Linked DNA regions of Homo sapiens: region 1 is linked to region 2. A link means that fine-mapping ties the variant in region 2 to the expression of a gene that starts in the linked region. Tissue or cell type: whole blood. Region 2 holds a variant in brackets; the other region holds the start of a gene. All regions are shown on one strand. Distances are from middle to middle.

What was found. PIP is the estimated chance that this variant, and not a neighbour inherited with it, causes the effect.
Region 1: KLHL5 starts here. The variant in region 2 is fine-mapped to the expression of KLHL5 in whole blood (TOPMed, PIP above 0.99).

What each region holds. Positions count from the first base shown.
Region 1 is chr4:39,060,060-39,065,215 of GRCh38, forward strand. It overlaps KLHL5 (kelch like family member 5), which reads left to right and starts at 2,173. Exons shown (of 11, transcript NM_015990.5): 1 at 2,173-2,976. The coding sequence starts at 2,594.
Region 2 is chr4:38,956,324-38,961,479 of GRCh38, forward strand. No RefSeq gene overlaps it. Among named protein-coding and RNA genes, the nearest start is that of TMEM156, 74 kb to the right of the region's middle. The variant T/C (reference allele first, on the strand shown) is at 2,319.

The DNA.
Region 1 (5,156 bases), 100 kb after region 2:
AGATAGTTTAATAAATTGGTTTTTTTACAGTAATGAAATATCATGTAACTCTTAAAAAGATTATTAATTTATATTTCCATGTATATATAAAATTAGGTGAGAAGAGCAAAATGCTAAAAGATGAATACAATATGATCTCTTGTATAACAATAGCAAATCTCTTATATATGTGTATATAAGTTTGTCCATGATTTATAAACATGGAGAGAGGTGTGAAAGGCTATATGTACCAAGCTTGGCGTCAGCAATGATTACCATGGGAATGAGTGGAGGAGGATTGGCAAAATAAAGGTATCATTTTTCATTGCCAGATGTTTGCTGTCTCTGGCCCCTGCACACTCAATGCCTATAGCACTCTGGTCATTCCAACAACTAAAAATCTACCACCACCACCACCACCACCACCTATTTTCCAGAAGCCTTTAGGAGCAGGTTGATGCTTCCCTTGTTGAGAACCAGCTACTTAGAGTAACTGAAGTGTTTACAAAGATGATAGTGCCTGAGCTAAATCTTGAAGGATGAAGTGTGTTTTTTAAACCAGAGTTTCTCTGGGAGGCAAACAGTGTTATAAAAGAGGGAACACCATAATGTAGACTGCCTTGACCAATGAAGTGGTGTGTCTATGTTGGAAAATGGTTAGAAATAAAGTTGGATAGCTAGAGTGAAGTTAGAAGGATGTTGATCAGAAGGAGTCTGACAAAGGTGAGAGGAGAGGGGAAAGTGTCATTTCACTCTCTAATGCGTCCTGCACAGTACTGCCAAGTTAATTTCCTAAAACATTGTCCTGTTCAACAGTCCATTCAATAATGTCTTTGCTGCTTGCTCAAGGCATTTTATCTCATCGTATTCATCTAACTTTATCTCTTACTACACCTTAAAATTAATTTGGTATGGCTGGCTGATCAAACTGATTATTTCCCACTTCTTCCTTGTAGATATGCCCACTTCATGCTTTTATTAGAATCTTTTTCTGTAGAAATCTATCATTCTACCTAAACAATGTTTTACTATTCTTAGCAGCCTTCTCCCTAATGAAACTGGCCCATACCACTCCATTGCCATCCTGATATCTCCTTTCTTTCTTACAGTTTGTATGGTTTTTCCCGTATTATTTAGCATGAAATCATACTTGGCTTTTTATGCTTCTCATTCTTGTTTCTCTGAATAATTTGTATTAAGATAGACACCTCACAATATTTTTGTAAGCCTCCAAAGTAGTTTTTGTTTTTGTTTTTTGGTCAGCTTAGATAGGCATTGCCTTTTGTATGGAATTAGTTGATAAAGGAGTAAATACTGAGCACCCTGAAAACTCAAATTCTGCATTGATAGATCACACTTTAATATTGCAGCATTTTAATGTTTCTTATTTTACCTTATCAAATATTTTGTATTTGGTTCAATAGCTAGATTTAATTATTTTGGGGGTTAGGAACCAAGATATATATATCTCTGTGTCCCTGACAATGCCTAGTAGATTGCATTGTTCACAATAACTACTCAGTATTTTTGAGTTTATTTGTATTTGCTTTATCAATTTGCCTTAACTGTAACCATGTTCAAACCATTGTTTGTTTTGCTAACAACAGAGGGCACCATTAGGGCACTTGTACACCCAATAGTCCTATCCCAGTCCCTGGTAGCTTTTTTGAGCCGCACTTTTCCTTTTCCTAAGTAATGTCATAGAAATTTGGATGTTACACTAACTGGCAGTGGCCCATTTCTACTTATAGAGAAATCCTGGCCTCAGTTTATTTGAAAAAGAGTATTTGTTACATTTTGATCCTTTGTAGTTTTCAAACTTTTTATTCTCCTCATTATTCTTTATCCAAGTGAAATCTTACCCAGGATCTTACTGTATTAATTAGATCCATTTGTTTTCTGAAGGGAGAAGATAGAGGTGAAGGCAATAGTCTGGAGCCCCACCTTTGTACTCCGCTTTCCTCCTCATTCCCCATCCAAAGAGCACACCTGGAAAATCACCATAACTCATCTAATTTTACAAATGCTTTTTTAAAAACTTGTTTTGTGGTATTTCACTTAGGGACTTAGTTTAGAAATAGAAACATTTTAGTTTTAAAGTGATTATTTTTAAGTACAAAGGGAAATGCTATAGAATACATTTATTGTTTCAGCAATGAAAGAGTTAATATACTAAGCAGCAGAGACTGAGATACTGCAACGGGGATAGTGTTTTCTGTCTCTGTCATTTGTGGTTTAAGAAAAAGGGGGTGGTGTTCTGCATTTGAAAGGACTTTAATGAATGCTGTCAGTGTTTGTGAGACCTAATGGTCAGTATGGGAAAGGAGAGCCGGGAAAGTGGTCTAGCTGCTTCAGGATAGGTGGATGAGAGTTTGCTCTGATTGAACGGAATGTTCCACCGTGTTTCATCTTTATTCATTATCCTTTGTTCTTTAAAATCTGATATATTGGCATAAAAGTAATTGTAGATATATATATGAATGTGATTTATTTTCCTTTACATATTTTTGTTGTGTACAGCAGGGCATATACTTCTCTTGTCTTGGTTGGATGCACAAATCTGTGTGCAGTGCTTTTTGCCCGTTGCCTAGACGATCACTTGGTTTCTCTGAGGATGTCTGGTTCTCGTAAAGAGTTTGATGTGAAACAGATTTTGAAAATCAGATGGAGGTGGTTTGGTCATCAAGCATCATCTCCTAATTCTACAGTTGACAGCCAGCAGGGAGAATTTTGGAACCGAGGACAGACTGGAGCAAACGGTGGGAGAAAGTTTTTAGATCCATGTAGCCTACAATTGCCTTTGGCTTCAATTGGTTACCGAAGGTCCAGCCAACTGGATTTTCAGAATTCACCTTCTTGGCCAATGGCATCCACCTCTGAAGTCCCTGCATTTGAGTTTACAGCAGAAGATTGTGGCGGTGCACATTGGCTGGATAGACCAGAAGTGGATGATGGCACTAGTGAAGAAGAAAATGAATCTGATTCCAGTTCATGCAGGTTGATTATTTTCTTACTGTTAGAAAAGGGGTGTGGGGGTATGGCTCTATAATGTTTTTAAATAATTTAGTATTTATTATTTAAAATCTGATTATATATGTACATCTGCATACATATATATAATATCTTGGTATGAACATGTGATACTTCTGCTAGGGTTTTTTTAATGTTCTAATAGTCTGTAAAATTACAAAGACAACAAATAGCATTCATTTTGAAATATCTTGTGTTCTATATATAGATCTGGCTCAGCTTTGAAAATAATATATAGTAGCAATTTCATGTATCATTGCCTGTGGTTTGCTTCATTCATTAACCTTCTATATTCATATCAAAACTATAGAAGATATTTCTATAGTATGAAATTTTATGTGACATTTTAGTTTATAACAGATGATAGAGTCATTTTTTAATTTAATGAAAAGGAAAGGTTTTGCAAAGAGATGCACATTATAGTCACCAATTTTTTGACACAATTGTAGTTGTCAATAATATTTTTCTTATGGTTATTTCTCTTTGTCCTGTCTGTGTTACAGCTCTCCAGACTAATATAGAGAATACTAAGTAACATGTCTCTAAGATGACAGCTACTAATTCCTGTTACCTTCACTTTCACTGAAATGTGTGCTATTTAGGGAAATGAAGGACATTCCTCCAGGAGAGTTTAAGGGAATGTAGAGGGGCTAGATGTGATTATCTGGTGAAAAGGGGACAGGAAGAAGGGGAAATCAGTTAGAAGAAAGAAAATAAGGAAAAAAATAGGTAATTTCATAGTGACTTTATCTACCTTTATCTTGGAATCTGCCTTTATCTTTGAAATGGATTTTCTTATTCATCAGTTTAAACTACAATAAGATTATATAACAACTTAGAGCATGAAAGTCATCTTTCTGATTAATCTTCATTCGAAAATATTTCTAAATATTTAAAGGCACAAATAGCTTATCATTTGTCTAATTTGATTATTATATTTTTCTCTTAAAATTTCTGTGCAGCTTTTGATAACACTTGTAATTTGTAAGTTGGTTATTAATGATGTAGGTGTCATATGGATTGAGACAAAATGAATTTATATATTTAAGTGTCTCTTACTTGAGGATATTTACCACCTTTTCCTCTTCTAACCTTAAGAATGTGGACTTGGAAGGATAAAAAATGTTTACTCTAGTCATCTGTCATCTTCTGTGTAATGGAGAGAGGGGAATATCTGTATGTAGGTAAATAGTGTATTTAATTTAAATTTTTTTTAATTAGTTCATGACTTGGCATTATCTTAAGGGAATAGAAGCCACTAATTTAATTTGGAGATCAATTGAGCTAATGTGGTTCATTGTTTGTATTTTCTTTGGAGACTTGTTGCCATAAAGAGAACAATTTATATAGTAAAAGATTCATCATTTTTGTGGAGAACCAAAGAGTAAATGTTTCATTTGAAAATCAATATATCAAGAATATTTTAACAAAATTAGAAAAAATAAAACATTCATTTACCAACATAAGTAAATTCACATATAAAACTCTTAACATGTTATCTACTACTGGAGAAATTATAATGTGAATATAAAATTTTTATACATGTGTAATCTTGGAAAAATTATACACACATTGGTTGCTATAATTCCTTACAACAAAGGTAGTTTGCATGGCTAATGATTACTGAAATAAAATTAAGCTATTCTTTAGTATGCATACAGAAATATCTTGGTGGGCTATTCATTATGAAATAAAAAGATTATCCTTTTTTGACTGAGAGATTGCTATGTGCATTCTTCAAGAATTTTAAATTGACGTTTTTCATTTATAGGAGATATAAAAATAAAATGGCATTTTTAAAAATCTAAAATAAATGAAGTTGTTTAAAAAATGCTACTCAAGAAGACTCATCAAAGTAAGACGGGTGTGGACAGTTTACATCTTCAGTGACCAAACTATTCCAAAAATAAAATTTCAAAAATAAAATGTACTGTGAGAAAATGTTTTTGATTTTTAGATATGAGGGGAAATATGTCAAAGGAATTTAATATTTTGGATGGTTTGAAATTTCAATCTTCTTATTGCAAATAAGAAAAAAACATTCAAGATTTTAGAAAAGTCCTTTGTGTGTATATTCTTTTTCTCTATTTTTTTCTAGATTAAATAGATCTAATTTTTACATCTTCCTTCAACACCCTGGCTGAGTC
Region 2 (5,156 bases):
GTACTCATTTTCCTTACGACTCCGAGCTTTTTTTCAAATATCTAATCTTCTCTTCTGTCACCTCCTGATATGGTTTGTACCCGTGTCCCTACCCAAATCTCATGTTGAATTGTAATCCCCAGTGTTGGAGGTGAGGCCTGCTGGGAGGTGATTGGATCATGGGGCAGAGTTCTCATGAATGGTTTTGCATCATCCTCTTGGTGTTGTTCTCATGATAGCGAGTGAGTTCTCCCGAGATCTGGTTGTTTAACCGCCCCCCATCTCTTGCTCCTGCTTTTGCCGTGTAAGACACCCACTTCCCCTTCACCTTCTGTCGTGATTGTAAGTTTCCTGAGGCCTCCCCAGAAGCAGAAGCCACTGTACTTCCCATACAGCCTGCAGAACCATGAGCTAATTAAACCTCTTTTCTTTATAAATTACCCAGTCTCAGATATATCTTTATAGTAATACGAGAATAGGTTAACACACCTCCCTACTGCGCCTGCTTCCCCATCCATCCCATCCCAACCAGCAGAGTCTCTAGAAGACATCCTGTGTGATTTCTGTCTCTGATGAAACTGCCGGCACTAAAACATGTCATTGAAAGAGGTCTTTTTTGCGTACGTTGATCTAATTCTTCTGTAAAGAAGCAACAATTACTAAATCTGGAGAACTTTTCTTCTAGCATGAGTCTAATTGTCAGAATAAAGTTAGTAGAAATAAAGTAGACAATTTTTGTTTTGTTTTGCTTTGTTTTGTTTTGAGATGGAGTCTTGCTCTGTCACCCAGGCTGGAGTACAGTGGCACAATCTCGGCTCACTGCAACCTCCGCTTCCTGGGTTCAAATGATCCTCCTGCCTCAGACTCCTGAGTAGCTAGGATTACAGGCGCCTGCTACCACGCTTGGCTGATTTTTGTATTTTTAATAGAGATGGGGTTTCGCCATGTCGGCCAGGCTGGTCTCAAACTCCTGACCTCAGGTGATCACCCGCCTCAGCCTCTCAAAGTGCTGGGATTACAGGCATGAGCCACTGTGCCCGGCTGACAATTTTTTAAGTATCCTTTTTTTCCTACTGAATTGTCTACACTGAATAAAGACTAACACAAGAAAAATATCTCACTGTGATGTAATCGTTAAGCACTGTTGTTTTGTTTGACATACTGGAACTTTGTAATGCTAAATTGCTTAAAAAGAAGCCCTACATTGTTTGCCAAAATAAAAATGGAACAGAGATGATTTCCTTTCTCTCTGTAGACAAGAAATTTCAAGTAGAAAAACGTGTTTTGAACCCAGCAAGGGGAAAGGGGACTTTCCAGAGACTCAGTCCATGACTTTTTCTTATCATTGCTTGGGTGTTTTTGTATTGTAACTAATTTTTTTTTTTTTTTTAACCACAGAGGATCTCGACATGGCTTAAAAGAATTTCTCTTAAAAAATCAATTAACACATTGCTTATTGATCCTATTTTATGAGCATCCAAAGCAAAAAGCTTAATTCTGTGCAATTCTTCTCACAACTACCAAATAATTGAGTTCTTTGAGGTACTTTGTTACATGGGTACAGATGAGAGCATGTTTGTTGTGTAGCGAACTTGTGGTAGAGTACGGTTTATAAGTAGACCTTCCAAGCATTGTTGAGATCAAGAGATTCGCAATACAGAACTCTCTACTAGAAGTGTTTATGAAAAGGTATTTGTCTGTATTGAACAATCTTTTTTTCCTAAGAAAAAGATCATAGCCAAGCAAGGTAGCTCACACTTATTATCTCAGCACTTTGGGAGGCTGAGGCAGGAGAATCACTTGAGGTTGGGAGTTCAACAGAAATGATTCACTTTTACCTCCATGATTCAGCGATTAAGATGCAACAGAGCAGTGGGTTAAGAGCACAGACTTTAAAACTAGACTGCCTGGGTTTGAATTTCAATCCTGCCACTTAAAAGCTGTGTGACCTTGAACAAGTTTCTTAACCTCTCTTTGACTTAATTCTTCACTTATAAAAAGGGGTAATAATAATGGTACTTACCTCCTAACCTTGTGAGGAGAATATTAATTCATTAATTAATACATGCTAGGTGCTTCATATGGTACCTGGCACATAGTCAATACTGTTCTAAATTCCCTTCCAAACTCCTATCCCAACCTTGGGCTATTTTTTACAGTGGTTGCATGAGCTATGGCTACCCTAAAGCAGCTGAAAATGTAGAGCAGCTATATATCCTTTAGTGTGAGTGAAGGGAGATCCTTTCCCAATATACACAGCTTACAAGGGGCAGACTTAGAAATGGTAGATAATCACTTTCAGAACTCTAGCCCATATGTTTCCCTAGAGCAAACCACTT[T/C]CTTTCCAAACATGAATTTCATGTAAGAGAATAAACATTTACAGATAGCTGGAAAGAAGCAAGGCTCCATATAGGGACATAAACTAATGCCTGTCTTTGCCAGATACCAAGTCCCTGAGAGGTCTATCTCTGAAACAAGCCTTTAAACTATACAAAGCAAACTGTCAGTCTGGGGGGGAAATGAGGATTTTAAAGTCACTATCTCCTATTAAATATTGCAGATAAACACACACAGAGAGAAAAAGAAGAGAAGTTGTGCTTTACACTAAAAAGAGACTTAGGGGAAAAAAGCAGCCTGCACTACCCTAGGGAAAGGAGACCTTGTCTTCTTTCCAAGTTCCATCATTGACAACCTCTGTGATGTGATCTTGGGTGAAACCCTCAACCGCTGGGGGCATCAGCTTCCTCAGCTGTAAAATGAGGGAGATGAACTAGATCTATAAGATTTCTTACAGCTCTGACATCCTATGACTTTATAAAATAAAATAGATGTTAAATGTATCCAGCAGGCAACAGAAACTAACTCTGGAAACGTACGCGGGAAAAGGATATTTTTGCAAGAATATCACTGGTAGCCCACAGAATCAAAGGGAAGCCTGGAGAACCAGGTTCAGAACTGATGTGGTTTGGCTGTGTACCCACTCAACTCTCATCTTGAATTGTAGCTCCCATAATTCCTACATGTCATGGGAGGGACCCAGTGGGAGATAATTGAATCATGGGAGCAGGTCTTTTCCATGCTGTTCTTGTGATAGTGAATAAGTCTCACGAATCTGATAGTTTTAGTAAGGGGATTTCCCCTGCACACACTTTCTTGCCTGCCGCCATGTAAGACGTGACTTTGCTCCTCCTTCACTTTCTGCCATGATTGTTAGGCCCCCCCCAGCCACGGAAAACTGTGAGTCCATTAAACCTCTTTCCTTTATAAATTGCCCAGTCTCGGGTATGTCTTCATTAGCAGCATGAGAACAGACTAGTACTAGAACCAAGGCAGTTTGGTGAGGATAGGGGATGTGTTTGGGGTTTAGAGGCAGGAATAACTGAACTATGTTACTGAAGTGAATGAGCTTCATTTTTTCCACCCTTACCTCACTGAATCCAAAACTCAAAGTCCTAAGATAGAGGGTCAAATTAGTCTAGCTCAAGTCACATGCCACTCATTGGCTGGTGGGCAAGAACCCTTGATTAATAGTCCCACCAAGACATTGTTCAACCTGTGAGAGGTGATTCCCTAAGAGGACATTGGGGTATGATTATGAGAAGTGCACTGACTACTGGGCAGCTCTTCACTACAAATGTTGTGTCTGTCTTTGTGATACCACACATTAATAGAACTTTTCTAAGTCAAAATCGATGGACTATTTTCACAGCCCATCTGAAAACAGATGTAACTTTGGATAGAGATATTGGCCCCATGACAACACTGTATCCATACACAGATGTGACCACCCATCACAAAATGTTAGACAATGACACATGCTTGCAGAACAGCCTTCGCATGCCTCAAGAGATTGTTCTGGGGGGAAAAAACACAAGTCTGTGTTTTGTTCTAAATGTTTCTCTCGGCTGGGCACAGTGGCTCACACCTGTAATCCCAGCACTTTGGGAGGCCAAGCCGGGCAGATCACAAGGGCAGGAGTTTGAGACCAGCCTGGCCAACATGGTGAAACCCCGTCTCTACTAAAAATACAAAAACTAGCTGGGCATGGTGGCGCTCACCTGTAATCCCAGCTACTTGGGAGGCTGAGGCAGGAGAATAGCTTGAACCCAGGACGGGGAGGTTGCAGTGAGCCAAGACCATGCCACTGCACTCCAGCTCTGGGCGACGGAGCATGACTCCATTTCAAAAAAAAAAAAAATTGTTTCTGTCTTTGCACATCTCCTTGGATGTGAGAAGGAACATTCACAGAGGCACCCAAGAGTCATTTTCCTCTTCTTCCGTGTTTACAGAGCCCTGTTTTTATTCTGATGGTCAATTCTCCTCCCCAACTTGAGAATCAGGTTAATCCTGATTGGTTGTAATTAGTCATGATGGTCCCATACCCCCTGCCATTGGGTGGTTTAAGGGTAGCTCTGTGACCTTGCTCTAGATGCTCTGACATGAGAATAAATCTGCTGGGGATGGAGGAGACTCCTTGTAAAGGTTTCTTCACTTGGATAGAGGACATTGTGGCTATAGGTGTGGTGGCTCATGCCTGTAATCCAAGCTACTCAAGAGGCTGAGGCAGGAGTATAGTTTGAGCCCACGAGTCCGAGACCAGCCTAGGTAACTAAAAAAGAAAAATCAAGGTGTAAAGATACGATGATTGGGCTGGGTGCGGTGGCTCATGCCTATAATCCCAGCACTTTGGGAGGCCAAGGCGGGTGGATCACGAGGTCAGGAGTTCAAGACCAGCCTGGCCAACATGGCGAAACCCCGTCTCTACTAAAAATACAAAAATTAGCCAGGAGTGGTGGTGGGTGCCTGTAATCCCAACTACTTGAGAGGCTGAGGCAGGAGAATTGCTTGAACCCCAGAGGCGGAGGTGACAGTGAGCTGAGGTCGCGCCACTGTACTCCAGCCTGGGCGACAGAGCAAGACTCCATCTCAAAAAAAAAAAAAAAGATGTGATGATTGTTGCTGCTATGGCCCCACCATTTAATATAATCTTTCCTTGAAACCATGAGAAGGGAAGCATGAACACAAACACCAACAATCTGAAGATGGCAAAGAGGAAAGAGAAGAAAGAACTTGAGTGCTTGATGATGAGTCTTGAATTAAGCAACTCTGGAAGCACCCTATTTAGAATTTCCCATTAGATAACATAATAAATCTCCTCATCATTTAAATCACTTTCA